Linked DNA regions of Homo sapiens: region 1 is linked to region 2. Evidence: fine-mapped expression QTL. Tissue or cell type: fibroblasts. Region 2 holds a variant in brackets; the other region holds the start of a gene. All regions are shown on one strand. Distances are from middle to middle.

The links. PIP is the estimated chance that this variant, and not a neighbour inherited with it, causes the effect.
Region 1: BET1L starts here. The variant in region 2 is fine-mapped to the expression of BET1L in fibroblasts (GENCORD, PIP 0.95).

Annotation. Positions count from the first base shown.
Region 1 is chr11:206,299-208,996 of GRCh38, forward strand. BET1L (Bet1 golgi vesicular membrane trafficking protein like) reads right to left here and starts at 1,101. Exons shown (of 4, transcript NM_001098787.2): 1 at 1,005-1,101. The coding sequence starts at 1,023. It overlaps RIC8A (RIC8 guanine nucleotide exchange factor A), which reads left to right and starts at 1,410. Exons shown (of 10, transcript NM_001286134.2): 1 at 1,410-2,640. The coding sequence starts at 2,557. RefSeq lists enhancers at 1-16, 327-828, 1,375-1,996, 1,852-2,021, 1,997-2,616 and 1 more and silencers at 773-832, 943-1,062, 2,124-2,322, 2,323-2,612, 2,683-2,698.
Region 2 is chr11:244,634-247,237 of GRCh38, forward strand. It overlaps PSMD13 (proteasome 26S subunit, non-ATPase 13), which reads left to right. Exons shown (of 13, transcript NM_002817.4): 6 at 42-128. Among named protein-coding and RNA genes, the nearest start is that of PSMD13, 9.0 kb to the left of the region's middle. The variant CGTGTGTTTGT/C (reference allele first, on the strand shown) is at 1,062.

The sequences.
Region 1 (2,698 bases), 38 kb before region 2:
TCTGAGACTGTGTAGCAAAAACTGGACCCAGCCCTGGGGTGCTAGTATGATGTGACACTTGCATCCAGGGAGGTCACCATCTGTGTATGTGGAGCCCATTCTTATAGAAAAAGAGTAAACTCTGCTAAGAGCATAGAAAAGACTTGGGAAAAGTACCCAGCAAGGCAGCAGAAAGGCTCCTGCAGAGACGACCTTTGAGCTAGGTCCTGAAGAGGTGGCAAGGAACCAGGACAGAACATTGGGAAGGCCCTTTACCGCACAGAAAATGGCTGAGCAAAGTTCCCAATTTCCCCGAGACGGGAGCTGAGGTCGACCAGGAGCGGGATCCTTGGTCTGCATCCCGCATGGGGCTTCCTGCAACACCCAGGGCAGAGTGCTCGCAGAGGCCTGGCCTGTGACAGGCTGGGCCAGGGGATAAGGAAGTTCTGTCACATCAGGTGCGTGAGAACCACCTCCTCCCTAGCTTCAGTGTCAGGAAGGGATGCCAGCGTCCTTCCAGCCACTTCATATTTATAAATTCCTTTAATCATCATAACACCTCACAGAGACAGGCATCAATATCCCACTTTGCAGACAAGAACACGGGCTCCAGGAGGGGAAATGGGGCCACCGAGGCCAAAGTAAGAGTCCTGCTTGGACACCAGCGGAGCACAGCCTCTACTCCTAGGGCCTGGCCTCGGGACCTGTCGAATGCCGACTCCCGCTCACCCCGAACCCATGCAGAACGATCTCACAGGGGGCGGCGGGGAGTGGGGAGACCCCGCTGCTGCGCGACCCCTCGCTGGAGCTGCTGGGCCGCCACGCGCGCCTTCGGTCCTAACGGCAGTGCCGGCCGAAACCCGGCCCTGCTCGGACCCGGAAGGATCCGAATCCGCCCCCCTGACAGGGTCCTCTCGGCCGAGGTCACCCCAGCTGGGCCAGAGGCAGGCGCACGCGGCTCTACAGGCAGCGGCGTCGGTTTCGGCCCGGCCCTGCCCCCAACGGCTCCGCTCTCCCGCGCTCACCCCGAGCCCAGTCCGCCATCGTGCCCTGCCCCGGCTCCTCGACGCGGACACCGACGCGGCCACAGCCGCCTCAGACGTGGCGCAGTCGCGGGGAAAGAGCTTCCGGCCCCGCCCCCAGCTAGCGATGGCCCCGCCTCCGCACCGACCACGCCCCTAGATAGCCCAGCCCCTTCCGCTTCGGGCTCGCTGACTTCCGGCTTAGGGCCGAGGGTGGGGAACTGCCGGGCGCGGAAGCGATGGGCATATCTGTGGCTTATTTTCAGCACTGTCGCGCAGACAGTGGCGCGATCTCAGCTCACTGCAGCCCCCGCCTGCCGGGCTCCCAAGGTGCTGGGATTACAGCAGCACCGCGGATGTGACGTTTGGTGTTCCTGTGAACGTGGGGCGGGGCGGGGCCGTTTGCTTGCTCAGTGCCTAGACGATGGTGGTGGAAAGACGCTTCTGTGGGTTAGGTCCTAACGGTTAGGAAGGATTCACAGGCGGGTCATGAGGAAGGAGCAGACCCCTCGGGCAGAAGCCCGCGAGGAGCACTGGGTGTGGTGGGGGCAGGGGTGCCTCCTCTGTCAAGTGGAGATCGGCGCCTCGCTCGTGCCTGCGAGTGCGCGCCGCGTCGAATACAGCCGTACAGAACGCACTACAGGAAAGTGAAGCCGGGAGAGAGACTGGGAGGCGGCGCGGGGACTGGGGGCCGTAGACGCCTTTGCTCCCGGGCACTTGTTAGAAGAGCGAGTGGATCGCGCTTCCTGTGCGTCACTGAATCCTCATGACGGCCACTGAAACGGACACGCAGGATCTTTGCTTTTCAAGAGGGAACTGAGTCCAGGCCAGACTGGGTTGCTCCCCTTTCTCTCGGCCCCTCCACCTTTGCAAGTGCTGCTCCTTCTGCCTGGAGTGGCTCCTCCAGTCTTTTCCCGGCTCACTTCCCACCGTCCGGTGTCAGCAAAAACAGCACTTCCTCACAGCCCGTTGCAGCCCAGCAGTCGCCTTTTGCTTCTTTTGAAGCACAGCCCTGTGACCGCCTCGTGTCCTTTTGTTTTTCCTTGTCCCCCTTCCCCTCTGGAACATAAGCTCCACAAAGGCAGGGACCTGGGAATCCCGTTCGCCTGCATTCCCCAGCAAACGCCTAACGAACCCAATGGCCCAGGACTGAAAATTCCTTTCCACTTCGGCTTTCCCCTCTACATCCCATCGGTTCTGTGGAGCTCGAGGGGCGTCACTGTGTGTGTGGCAGGGCACGGTGGGGGCTGAGATCGTTTCCTGTTGGAACTTCTGGCCCAAGAAGCGCGGGTCACAAGGAGAGGGGTCAGTTCGGTTCAGAGCGACTCAGCCCCTCGACTCGGGTCTTAAAACCTCCGAGCCGCCAGTTCTGCCTCAGGCCGCGCCCCCTTAAAGCGCCACCAGACGCTGCGCCCCGTTAAAGCGCCACCAGACGCCGCGCCCCGTCCCGGCCTCCCCCGCGCGCTGGCGCGGGGCTTTCTGGGCCAGGGCGGGGCCGGCGAACTGCGGCCCGGAACGGCTGAGGAAGGGCCCGTCCCGCCTTCCCCGGCGCGCCATGGAGCCCCGGGCGGTTGCAGAAGCCGTGGAGACGGGTGAGGAGGATGTGATTATGGAAGCTCTGCGGTCATACAACCAGGAGGTAAGCGGCCGCCTGAGGCCGGGGGGCGGGCACGGAGGGGGTGGGGCAGGGTCGTGCG
Region 2 (2,604 bases):
CCACATTCTGAGGTTTCTTGTTTTTGTTTTTGATGTCTTAGGTGAAAAGTAGTGATGAGGCAGTGATCCTGTGTAAAACAGCAATTGGAGCTCTAAAATTAAACATCGGGGACCTACAGGTTACAAAGGTGAGATCACCATAATACAGATTTATCTTTGGTTTAAAATTATTTAAAACCCTAGGAAAAAAAATAACCTATTTTTCTTCTTTACTGTTTATTTTAAAACATTTTTACATTACAGAAAAGTTGCAAAAATAACACAAAGAACTACTATACCCCAACCTAAATTTCCCATTGCAAACCTTTTTTTTTTTTTTTTTTTAAAGACGGAGTCTCGCTCTGTTTCCCAGGCTGGAGTGCAATGGTGCAATCTCGGCCCACCGCAACCTCCGCCTCACGGGTTCAAGCAATTCTCCTGCCTCAACCTCCTGAGTAGCTGGAATTACAGGCGCGTGCCTCCCTGCCCGGCTAATTTTTTTGTATTTTTAGTAGAGACAGGGTTTCGCCATGTTGGCCAGGCTGGTCTGGAACTCCTGACCTCAAGTGATCCCTCTGCCTCAGCCTCCCAAAGTGCTGGGATTACAGCCGTGAGCCGCTGCGCCCAGCCCCCCCGATTGCTAACCTTTTACCGCTTTTGCCTTTGTGTGTGTCTGTAGCTTTTTTCCAAAACCACTTAGGAGTAAGTTGCTGATACAATGCCTGTTGCCCTTAAACAAAAGAGCACTCCCCTGTGTGACCACAGCACATCCGTCTAATAATGACTCCACATGGCCTCAGTCAGCCCAAAGCACATTGGTTCTCCCTGACCAAGGTCAGCCTACACACCACTGGCATGTCACGTGCTATTTCTCCATCTTCCTTCTGCCTCCTAAATGTTGTTGAAGTATCCTGTCTATTTTTATGTCTTTCTTATGTTCAATTATGTTTTGGTGCAGTTGGGAGACAGGTATGGATGTGGGTGGCAGTGAAACCGACATGTGGCTGGTCCACCTGGTTGAACCAGAACGTGTGTGTGTGTGTGTGTGTGTGTGTGTGTGTGTGTGTGTTTGCATGTGTGTT[CGTGTGTTTGT/C]GTGTGTTTGTGTGTGTGTGTTTGTGTGTGTGTGTGTTTGCTAATCACAATGTTAAAGAAAATATTGGGGGTAAGGGTTAAAGTGTTCATGTCCTCATTGCCCTGAAAAGATACTTTTTATTGTTTATTGTCAGTCCTAACCCATATGCATACTTAGTGCATTTTATTTTCAAATATTTTAAGACATATTGAAAGCTATAAGTCACAGTACAGAATGCTGTAATAGGCATCCATGTGCCCCAACCAGCTTAGGAAGGAATGAAGCCACACGGCACAGTCAGGGTCCCAGTACCCTTCAGACCACACTTCTCCCCCAGCCAGGCTCCCTCTCATGCCCATGCATTTCCTTGTCCTTCATTAAATAGGGGTGTGTAACTCAAGCGTTTTAACATTGGCTCAATACTAGGTTTCAGAGTCATGTGGGTATGTGTAACCAATGTGCTGTTACTCCTATACGGTATTTCATTGTATAAGTGTTTCACAACATATGTATCCAGTCTCCTATTGAAGAGATTTAGGGCCAGGTGCGATGGTCACACCTGTAATCCCAGCACTTTGGGAGGCTGAGGCAGGTGGATCACAAGGTCAGGAGTTCAAGACCAACCCAGCCAAGATGGTAAAACCCCGTCTCTACTAAAACCACAAAAATTAGCCGGGCATGGTGGCGGGCGCCTGTAGTCCCAGCCACTCGGGAGGCTGAGGCAGCGAATTGCTTCAGCCTGCAAGGCGGAGGTTGCAGTGAGCCGAGATCGCACCACTGCACTACAGCTTGGGCAACAGAGCGAGACTCTGTCTCAAAAAAAAAGGGAGATTTAGGTTGTTTTTTTTACTATCACAAACAGTACTGCCATAAGTATTTCTGTGCCTGGTCCCTTGTGTGTGGGCAGAATCTCACCAAGATGTATGCCTAGAGACTACAGGTACAAGCTGTGTGCATCTCTGCCTTTCCCAGATACATGCTCCCTCAGCACCATATGAGTACTCTGGAAGCTCCATGTCTTCAACACCTGATAGTTTCAGGCTCTAACTCTTGCTGATCTAATAGAAGTGAAATTATATCTTGTTGGGGGTTTAATTTGCATTTCACAATTACTAGTGGTTTATTGGCCATTCTGTTTGTGTCCCCAAATTTGTCAATTGCCTGTTAATGTCTTTTGCCCATTTTTCTACTGTGTTGCTTGTCTCCTGACTCATTTGTAAGTGTTTTTATATTTCCTTGGTCATAATTGCTGGTGGGTTATAAATGTTGTAAATATTGTTTCCCAGTCTGTAGCTTGTCTTTGTACTTTTTTCTGTGTTTTGGATTAAGTTTTCCATTTTAACGCGGTCACATTCATCAGTCTTTGCCTTGGTAGTTGATGCTTTTCATCTCACAATATATTACTTTAAAAATCTTAGCCAAGCACAGTGGCTTGAACCTGTAATCCCAGCTACTACAGAGGCTGAGGTGGGAGGATCACTTGAGGCCAGGAGTTCAAGACCACCCTAGGCAACAGAGTGAGACCCTGTCTCTAAAAAAATAAAATAAACTTT